Linked DNA regions of Homo sapiens: region 2 is linked to region 1. The links come from fine-mapping of genetic effects on gene expression. Tissue or cell type: monocytes after R848. Region 1 holds a variant in brackets; the other region holds the start of a gene. All regions are shown on one strand. Distances are from middle to middle.

Region 1 (5,140 bases):
GTGCCTGCAAAGGCAGGACGAGCAGCACCACCGGCTACTCGGACTCTTCTGGAATGGGACCCCAACTCAGCTCCCACAGAGGGACGCCCACAGTTGAGGCTCTCAGGGCCTTGTTGATCCTTTTAGTGCAGGAGAGAGAGACCAGTCAGCTGGGCCAGTCCCCCACGCAGCCTGACAAGGCCGGACTCACTCAACAGAGGCCGACCCCGTGGGCAGAGGACTTGAGGCCCGGCAGGGCCCAGGGCCGGCACTCGACAGGGAGACCATGACGTGGGGCGGGGGCGGCCAAGTGGGCAGCATCCCCCGACCCTCAACACCTGCGGGAACTGCTGGCCCAAGGGAGAGCCCAGCCTGGCCCTGGTCTCCACCACCCCGGACCCTGCTCAACTCCCTGCACTGTGGGGCTGGGAAGCCAAGGCCAGGGTCCTTGAGGCTCTCACTGGCCAGAGGGCGACATGGGACACCAGAGAGCACACAGACAGTTCAGGTCGTTTCATTCAAAACCAGCCCAGGCCATGCCCGGGGGGATCCGCCGCTCCGCGGCAGGGCTGTGGCCCAGAAGGTGAATGAGGGCTTGCTGGACGGCCCCTGATGCCAGCGGCCGGCCCGGAGCCACCCCAGGGCTCGGAGTATTGCTCCTGGGCCTGCCTGGCCTCAGGGCTCGGCGCCCTCACCTCCTCGGACAGACCAGCAACGCCCACGCTTCCTGGGCTTTGCCTCGAGGATCCCCGGGGACGGGACGGGCCGGGGCTTGGAGGGGGGTCGGCTGCCACAGGCTCACATCACGGCCTCCATATGCAGGATCCTCAGGGCCTCGGAGATCTGCGCGCTGGGGTCCATCTGGCCGTACATGCCCACCAGGAAGGCCCGGTGGAGCAGCACAGCCGCGTGCTCTGTGGGGGAAACGGGGCCCTGCACGTCACGCTGGCCACAACATCCTGGCCGCAGTGACCAGACCTCGGGACTCCCAAGAGCCAGCCCTCGGGGGACGCACCTCCGGCCTCCCCGAGGGCTGCCAGGGCCCTGGGCGGGGGGCCAGTCCTCACCTTGGCACAGGAGAGCGTACTCAGGCAGGTTCCGGAGGGCCGTCTGCACCACCTCAAAGTCCTGGCTGCCCAGGCAGTACATGAACGTGGGCAGGAAAGCGGCTGCAATGCTGAAAGACCCACACACTTCAGTGGGAACCTCCACCCTGTGCCCACGCCAGACCCCCACCCGACAGGGCGAGCTGAGCCGCCTGGAAGCCTGGTCTGGCCACCAGGCGGGTCAAGCGGTGACCTGGGTTAGCAGGGCCCAGCGGTGGCGGCGGGACAGAGGCCGGCGGTGGCCTCACCTGGGGCTGTTCTGCATGGAGCGCAGGGCCAGGCTGAAGGCGAGGTTGCGGCAACACTCCTCGGCCGAGCTCATCAGCCGCTGCAGGTTGGTCTGACCGGGGGAAAGGTGGGAGGTGTGTGACCAAGGGGTCCAGCCCCCATCAAGGCCCCTTCACCTCTTGGTCTCGTGATGGTTGGCGGCAACGGCAGGGACCCTAGGCCCCTATCCAGAAGGCAGGACGCACGTGCCACTGGCCGGTCCCAGCCCGGGGCTGAAGGCAGGCCTGCTCTGGCGGCGGCTTGACTGTGAACACCTGGGCTGGGGCCCCCACCCGAAGCCCAGCCTCAGAGGACTCCCTGGGGCTCAGCGCGGGCACGCCATGTTGGGGTGGTGGCCCTGCTGGGGTTCCCCAAGGGAGTGGCTCCTCCCAGCTCTCCCTCAGCCCCATCCAGCTCACCGAGAAGAAGCTCAGGATCTCGGGTCTCCGCCGGGACATCTCGTCTATGTCACTCAGAACCTCCAGCAGATCTGACACAGAGAGAGGGCCAGACCAGAACTGAAGGGCCCAGGCAGACCTCTGCCCACCCCACCCCAGCCACCCAGAGGGGGCAAGGCCCCGAGCACCACAGGACAGAAAGCACTGGAAAGCATGAGCCCAGTGACGCCCCAGGCAGTCACCTGCCCCCAAGCTCCACAAATACCCGGCCCTGCCCCTACTAGTGGCCTCCAAGGAGAGGGGTTGACCCCTCACGGCAGCCCCATATCCAGGGTGCTCTTAGCACCAAGTGTCCCCACGGCCCGACTCCATCCGGGCCGCTCAGCCTTGGCTGTCCTCTGACAGCGGCCACCGGTACTGCCCACCCGCTGGTCTTGCCCACCCGCCTGACCTCTTCCTGCTGTACCCCCAC[C/T]ACCTTAGGGGGCTCCCCTGCTTTTTGCTGTGCCTGAAGCAGAGCAGCCACCTCCAGCTCCCCTGGGCCCCTGAGTTTCTAAGGCCCTCTCTGGGGGTGCTCCCCACTGTGAGGAACAGCCCACCCACCCACAGCCCAGCGTGGGCCAGGCTCACGCCAAAGTCAGTGCCCAAATGGCTACTGGCTGCTGCCCGCAGCCCCATGGGACCCAGGGCGCTGACCTGGCGTGGGTGAAGCAGGGCCTGACTCACCCTCCACCGTTTGGCCCCGGGAAAGCCGTTTCATGTAGGGGGCCATCTCGGCCGCGGTCAGAGGGGTGAACAGGGAGACGCTGACCAGGGGCAAGGAGCCGGCTGAGCTCTCCTCTGGAAGACAGTGGCAGTGCTGCAGGAGGGCGGGAGCGGCAGGACGTGCCACACTGAGGCACCAGGACCTGCCCTCCCGAGAGCACGGCGGCCACTGCCCAGGCTCCCAAGGTGCCTGCACACAGCAGCGCTCCACAAATGGGGTGGAGCCAGGAGCCGGGAGCTGCCTTTGGATCCGGCGCATGCACCTCTGCGAGTCTCTCCCTGCTGGGTTTCTCGCAATGTGGGCCAGGACCCACTGGGCACAAGACGGGATGGCCCCTTGGGACCCGGGCCTGGCGCTCTTCCGGCGGCACAGGAGAGACGTGCTGCGGTGCCGTGTCACCTCAGGCAGGGAAAAACCAAGGACAAGCCTTGCCCAGTAGGACCAGGGGAGGCTTCCTGGGGAGGGACACCTCGGACAAGCACTGGTGGATGGTGGATGTGCCAGGGACGGGGGGGTGGGGAGGGCCATTTGCCGGGGCGGGGCGATGTGCCGGGGGGCAGGTGTGCTGATGCTCTGTCAGGCACCAGTCAGTGCTTCGTCCCCTTGAGGTGGGTCAGGGGCCAGCCAGCAAGGTCCCAGGCTCACACAGCCCCCATCGGGACGCCTCGGACGGCCCAGGGCTGGCTGTGCGCTGGGAAAACCAGGCCCTGTAGGACTGTTCCGCAGCTGCTTCCAGCAGCCCCTGGCAGCCCCACTCACCCTCGCCCTCTTCGTCCAGGCCTCGGTCGGTCCTGTCGTCCCTGCTGGGCAGGCTGAGCCCTGCAAGGAGGGATTTCAGCATCACCAGGTCACTGTTGTCGAAGGACAGGTCGCTGGGGAGAGAAGATGCTTTCACCTGGGAGGAAGACGCTGGCAGGAGGAAGGCTGGGTCAGGGGTCAAACTAGGGTGGCATGGGAGCGTGTGGACACAGGCATGCAGGAGAGGCCAGGACGCTCAGAGGGAGGGCCGGGCGGGGAAGCCACATGTGCGTGGAACGGGACAGAGAGCCAGAGAGCTGCAGGGGTGGGTTCAGACGGCTTCGGCACAGGGTGGGGCGGCCTCTGCGCCCTGGGATGAGCACCACGCTCAGCAGCCCTCCCCGGCCTCAGGAGCAGCATATCTGACACGACACGGCCTTCCCAGGAACACCCTCCAGACCCCGCTGGACCCTCGCCGGAGGCCCGAGGCTTCCCTGCAGCCCGTGGGCACTCACTGGAGCGGGTCGGCGTGCTTCTGCAGGAAGGAGATGGCTGCTGGGGCATTGTAGGTAATGTACTTATGGATGAACTGCACAAACTTGTTGATGAAGGCAGCCAGATGGCGGGAGGACTTCCTGTAATTCTGCAAAGCAAAAGCGGCACCCTCGAGCTGCTCTGCCCCGCAGGGCCAAAACAGAGCCTGTGCTCCCATCTGCTCCCAGAGCCTCAGGGCATGGACCCCACAGCCAACGAGCCCCCTCTGCCAACCACTGGGGCGTCACAGGCCCAAGGGTGGCCGGCATGGCCTGTCAGGGTGTGGACATGGCTGTCTGGGGCATGTGCCCAGATGGATGAGGGGCTCGAGGTAGCACAAGCGACACGCAGAGAACAGCACGGAGGGTCTGGGCTGGGCTTCTGAAGGACGTGGGCCCCCCAGGCACGTGAGGGGCAGCAGGCAGGGGCTTCCCAGGGTGGGAGCTGGTCCCCAGGGCAGGTGGCCTGGCCTGGGCCCTGGCTGCAGAGGTCCTCCCAGTCCCTCCGCGAGTGGGTGAGGCAGGCCTGGGCCAGAGCAGAGGGAGTGGAAGGGAGCGCGAGGGCGGGCGGCGGGAGCACACACCAGCAGCAGGCGGATGAAGGACAGAAGGCAGTCCCACAGCGCCCCCTGGTGCTCGCTGCGGAACACGTGCGGCTGCAGCAGCTCCAGCAGGCCCAGCACGTGCAGGAAGCAGCTCAGGTGGTTCTGCTGCCGGAACTCCTGGAAGTTGAGGTGGGTGCGGCCGTGCAGGAGCGCCGCGATCATGGGCAGGTGCCTGCGGGCGCGGTGAGGGCCCAGTCAGCCCCGGCCGGCGGGCTCACCTGGCGCACGTCCCCAGGAAGGCCCCACTGCCTGCCCCGGGAGCCAGACCCCGTGCTGCCCCCCAACCACCCTCCTGCCCTAAGGAGGTGGGGATGAGATCGCCCCTCTCTGAGGCCCACCCAGCTCCTCCCACCTGAGGCCCAGCTCAGTCCTGACTTCCCCCGGTCAAGCTCAGCCCATGGGAACATGCTTTTTTTTGTTGTTTTTGGAGTTTTGCTCTTGTTGCCCAGGCTGGAGAGCCGCAGACCCCCCTGGTTAAACCAGTGTCTGGCGAGGGCAGGGCTTCTGGGACAGCACCTGAGCAGCAGCAGCGGGTGCGCCACCGCCAGCTTCCGGCAGGCCATGCTGGCATCCGCCCCTCGGTTCTCCAACGCCCGGGAGTCGCTGGTGTCCGCAAGGAGCGTGATGAAGCGGTGGATGAGTCCGTCCAGCTGCAGGGAGGGGCGCTCTGAGGCCGGGGCCGCTGGCTCCCCTCACTTGCCCACCCACACTCAGCCTGGCCGCCAGCTGTGGCCGTGATCCACCGCGTGGC
Region 2 (5,140 bases), 32 kb after region 1:
TCCTTTCTACAGGAGGTAGTGCTAAAGATAAATAAAGCACCGAGCCGCCGGCGGCCGAGAGCCCGGGCCAGGATGAGGCCTGTGGTCTCTGTCTTCAATCCCCACCGGCACCAGCTGCCCAGGGACACGCCTCATGGGAGGTCTGAGGCTCGACCTCCTAAAGCAGTCCCCCAGCTGTGCCATCCTGGGCCGTTTGCCCCCAGGGCTCCCTGATGCCAACTGAGTCCAGCACAAACACTGCCCACAGCGCCCAGCCTCAGCTCTCATGAGCGTGTGCTGCCCAGGCCAGGCCAGGCCTCCATTCCCTGGGCACAGTCCATTCTCTGCTTGGCATCTCCCTTTCCTGCCTGCCCCGGTTTCATCGCCTGTGCTTCCAGGCCCAAGCCCATACTGCAACTCCCTGCCAGGCCTCCTCCCTTCCAGGGCCGTCGGGGACTCACTCACAGGCTTGCACTGCAGCAGCCTGGTCCCTCCCTGAGGGCAAGGCCACAGCCCACAAGTCCCCTGGGTCCTGTCTGGCACAAAACTCAGTAACCAGAGGTGGCGCGGCTTGAACAGACACCTCACTACCAAAGTCATCAGGACACTTGTTCTTTTTGACTCCTACAAAGAAATTACCCAAAAGAGATGCTCCCACAGAAACAAAACACTGCAGACCATGAGGCTTGCTGGGGCTGGTGCGATAGCTGCCAGAGCGACTCCCAGGGAGTCACGGAGCCTTGAGAAATGGTCGTTGGGAAAATGGCGCAGAGGGGCAGGGGCGATTCTAGGCACACAGTTAAAGGCATTTCTGCGAGAACGGGACAGTGGTGAAGCTTACATTCCCCCGTTGATGTCCTTACTGTTCTGCTGCTTTTCAACTGAAAACAGGGAGGGGATCAACTCTTCTCTGTTGGTAACCAGGAGGGAAGGAGGAACCAAGTACACATCGCCTCCGCTCAGGTTGAGAGAGGAACGCACCAGGATGGGCAACCTTGAGAACAGACACCTGGGGTGTCGTCACGCCCGGTTTACCCCCAGGGCTCAGACAGTGCCCGTCACAAAGGGGGCGTCCAACAGACACATGAGACAAACAACTCAATAAGGGAGTGACCCGGTTCTCAAAGGGCAGCCACTGGCAGTGCAGGACGCAGATGCACACACGGGATAAGGGCATCTACGTGAGAAGCACTTCCAAGAACAAGCCACAAACATCCGCTCTCCCAAAGGACCTCGGCCATACGGGCAGCACTAGGCCTGGAGGGGGCCTTCCCTGAACACCTGATGGACGGCATGAGCTGAGGGGTGTTCTCGGGGGATGTCCACAGACTCATTACCTTCAATTGGCACCACAGATGGCTCTTTAATCGACGGAGAAATGGCTCGTTTTTCTGCCACTGCAGCCTCAGCCAGGCGCCCCAGGGCACTCAGAGGGGGTGTGGAGGAGAGTTTGGGGCGTTTGGTGAGACCGGTGAGGGCCGAGGCACTGGACAACGCGGCCGCCGCATCCCGCTTGCGCTCAGAAGGCAGGCCGGAAGGGGCTGGCTTCAGCAGGGTGGACGCCGTTTTCGATTCATTGGCCTGACCCTTTGAGCCCAGAGCAATGAAGTCTCCTGGGGGAGGGTGCCCTGCAGAGAAAGGAGAGAGAAAACCGGGCACATTTGCAACACCCAAGATGGAAAAAGACTGACTCTAACCTCCTGTTATGTCAGAGGGGATTAAACAAGGGTCAGAGGAGGCAAGGAAGAAGCCAGAGCTCACTCAGCAGCCTACAGCAGAGCTGGGACCAGCAGGATACGCACAGGTGATGGTGGACAGTCACGTAGCGCTAACCACAAACCAGGCCATCTCTGGTCTATCCAAATTAGTGTGCTTAGTAACCCCCGCCCCGAGTTTCCGCAATAGGTGCTATTACTCTAACTTTACAAGAGAGAAAGGGACACAGAGAGGTTAAGCGACGTGCCCAGCGTCACACAGCAGGCGAGTGGCAAAGTCCGGAGGATCTGAGCCGACAGTTCAGCCGCAGACCCCGTGCTACGCTACACTGTGCTGCCTCCCGCCTCCTGGCTGGGGAGACCTTCCGCTACTGTCGGCCGCCTTGCAGCTCAGCCTGAAACGAGATCACCGGGGTCCCGAAGGAAGTCGCCACTGTCCCAAGCCTCCCAGGGACTCTCAGAGCCGCTGAGGACCGAGAGCAGTGTTTCCAGACCGAATTCCTGGAAACAGCCGCGGCTGCGGAACAACCAAGCCCAACGCAGGATCCGCGGCAGCTGAGATCCCCAAAGACCCCCAAAGACCCCCAAAGACCCCCGGGCTGCAGAGCGAGGAGGGAGACGCACCTGAGGGTTTGGCCGCGGCGCTGGGCCGGCGCACCGTGGTGGGCTTGGCCCGGTTCATCCTGCCCCGTCCCTCGCGGCTCCCGGCGGCTGCGGCGTCACCTGCGGAGGAGCCAGCGTGCGGTCATTCCTTCACTCATTCGCTCGTTCGCTCGCTCATTCGCTCCCTTGCCGCACGGGGCTTGGGCCTGGGACCCGGGGACAGTGGTCCCGCGCCCGCCCGGCGGGGCGATGCTGCAGGAGCTGCAGGGACCCCGCCTCCCAGCCGCCCGGGAGCGGCTCAGTCGGGCGGCAGCAGGCGACGCGGACGCCGGGCTGGAGGCGGCAGAACCAGAAGGGACGGCCCAGAGGCCGGGAGCGGTAGCCGGGAGAACCAGGCGCTCGCCCGGCAATGAGGAAGCGCCCAGGCCGCGGCTCACTTACCTCTGGCCCATCGCGACCGGAGCGCCGCCGCCGCCACCCGGCCACCCCGGAATCGGAAACCGATCTCACCGCCCTCGAGGACCCGACTTCCGGAACAACCGGAAGGAAAACAGTGCGGCGGGAAGCGGGCCCAGAAGGAGGCGCGAGAGGCCCGCGGCGCCGGCCTGATGCCTGCAGCGCCCCATGGCGGCGGGAGGCGGGCTGGCCGGCGCCGCGCGCATGTGGTCCGGTCCAGGTGGGTCGGCGGCGCGGGGCAGGCGCTGGCCTCTCCATTCACAGGTGGTGCTGGCGTTGCGAAGGGACGCACTCCAGGACGCACGGCGGGGAGGAGTGGCGTCAGGGATCCGCGGATGAGTCAAGTGGCAGGTTCTGCACGTCCCGGAGAGCGGGGGCGGCCGGGGCGCAGGCACTGGCGAGGGGGCGCAGCCCGGGGGGCTCCCGGGGAGAGACCCTGTCTCAAATAATAATAATAATAATAATAATAGCTTTATTGAGATAGAACTCGTGTTCCACAAAGTTCACCCTTTTCTTTTTTCTTTTTTTTTTTGGCACGGAGTCTCGCTCTGTCGCCCAGGCTGGAATGCAGTGGCGCGACCTCGGCTTATTGCAACCTCCACCTCCCAGGTTCAAGCGATTCTCCTGCCTCAGTCTCCCGAGTAGCTGGGATTACAGGCGCCCGCCACCATGTCTGGCTAATTTTTTTGTGTTTTTAGTAGAGACGGGGTTTCACCATGTTGGCCAGGCTGGTCTCGAACTCCTGACCTCAGGTGGTCCGCCCGCCTTGGCCTCCCAAAGTGCTGGAATTACTGCGCCCGCCCCGCCCCCACGCCTTTTTTTTTTTTTTTTTAATGGAAACACTGATGGGAACAAAACTCAAAAGACACAAAAGATCATACAGTTGCCAGGTGTGATGCTCATGCCTGTAATCTCAGCACTTTGGGAGACCAAGGCAGGAGGATCGGTTGAGTTCGAGACCAGCCTGAGCAACATAGCAAGACCCCCATCTCTACAAAAAAATAAAAATTAGCTGGGCATGGTGGCATGAACCTCTAATCCCAGCCCTTTGGGAGGCCAAAGTGGGAGTCTGAGACCAGCCTGGGCAACATAGTGAGACCCTATCTCTACAAACAAAAATCAAGAATAAATTAGCCAGGCATGGTGGTGCATGCCTACGGTCCCAGCTACTGAGGAGGCTGAGGTAGGAGGATCTCTTCAGCTTGGGAGGTCAAGGCTGCAGTAAGCTATGATGGTGCCACTACGCTGCAGCCGGCCGACAGAGCGAGACCCTGTCTAAAAAAAAATAAAAATAAAAGGTGGGGGAATCATCCAGTCAAAGGGTCGAAGGTCTCCCCTGACCCCTGAGCAGCTGGTCCCCTCCCCTGGAGTCAGCCTGTGTTCTGATTTGTGCCTGTGTTCCCGGCTTTTCCGTGTGCGTTCAGGCAGCCACCCGTGTGCCTCCCTCTGCCTTGTCACCCTGCAGGTAGCGCACGGCTCCTCTTTTCTGCACCTGGCTTTTGCCACTTAACCACATCTTGGAGATCTGTTCCCAGCAGGGCACTGACTCGAACGCTGCCCCGCCACCGAGGGAGTCCTGAGCACCGCCTGCCCGGTGTGTCCCATCTCCTCATCCAGGGACCGCAAGGCAGAGCTGGTCTCCCTGTGCCCCTGAAGTTGGGTGTGGCCATTTGACTGTGGCCTCAGTGAGGCTCATGGCCCCAGGCTGCAGCCTGAGAACTGCTGTGTGACCCGCCACGGTCTCTTTCCACTCCTGTGGGCACCAGCTGGGTCCCCGCAGGACCCCAAGGGCTCCAGGGCCCTGCACCCTGCGCTGTGTGGGCAGCGAGTCCGGAAGGAGACGTCCGTGGTGCCCATGGGAGGAGAGGCCGGTCAGGCGCGGATCCCTGCCGGACGCCAGGCGGGGGCTGTGCGGCTTCATCCCTCTACAGTTTCTCAATCTGTCCCTCAGGGTAACTCTCTAAGGGGAGGGGAGATCCGATGGGGTAATGCTTCCTCCTCCTGTCACCTGAATGGGAGCACCCTGCACAGAGCTTCCTCTGCCCCGCCACCTGCCTCTCCTCATCCTCTGACCAGCATCACCGCCCCTGCATGCGGGGCCTGTGCCTTCGGCAAATGCCCTCACCCGGGCCCAGGCCAGAACCTCAGGGTCGACCTTGAGAACAACTACCTCCTCCTCCCCCTCCCCCTCCCCCTCCCCCTCCTCCTCCCCCTCCTCCCCTTCCTTCTTCTCCCCCTCCTCCCCCTCCCCCCTCCTCTCCTCCTCCCCCTCCCCCTCCCCTCCTTCCCCTCCCCCTCCTCCCCCTCCCCCCTCCCCTTCGTTCCCCTTCTTCTCCTCCTCCCCCTCCTCCCCTCCTCCCCCTCCTCCTCCTCCTCCTCCTCCTCCT

What was found. PIP is the estimated chance that this variant, and not a neighbour inherited with it, causes the effect.
Region 2: it holds the start of INTS1, and the variant in region 1 is fine-mapped to the expression of INTS1 in monocytes after R848 (Quach 2016, PIP 0.90).

What each region holds. Positions count from the first base shown.
Region 1 is chr7:1,469,800-1,474,939 of GRCh38, forward strand. It overlaps INTS1 (integrator complex subunit 1), which reads right to left. Exons shown (of 48, transcript NM_001080453.3): 40 at 4,906-5,039; 41 at 4,369-4,561; 42 at 3,767-3,894; 43 at 3,273-3,385; 44 at 2,474-2,587; 45 at 1,772-1,842; 46 at 1,334-1,425; 47 at 1,047-1,156; 48 at 478-893. The coding sequence ends at 778. Among named protein-coding and RNA genes, the nearest start is that of MICALL2-DT, 12 kb to the left of the region's middle. RefSeq lists an enhancer at 32-727 and a silencer at 4,502-4,701. The variant C/T (reference allele first, on the strand shown) is at 2,223.
Region 2 is chr7:1,501,585-1,506,724 of GRCh38, forward strand. It overlaps INTS1 (integrator complex subunit 1), which reads right to left and starts at 2,805. Exons shown (of 48, transcript NM_001080453.3): 1 at 2,739-2,805; 2 at 2,319-2,417; 3 at 1,317-1,607. The coding sequence starts at 2,376. RefSeq lists a silencer at 2,451-3,010 and enhancers at 3,897-4,493, 4,119-4,308, 4,494-5,089.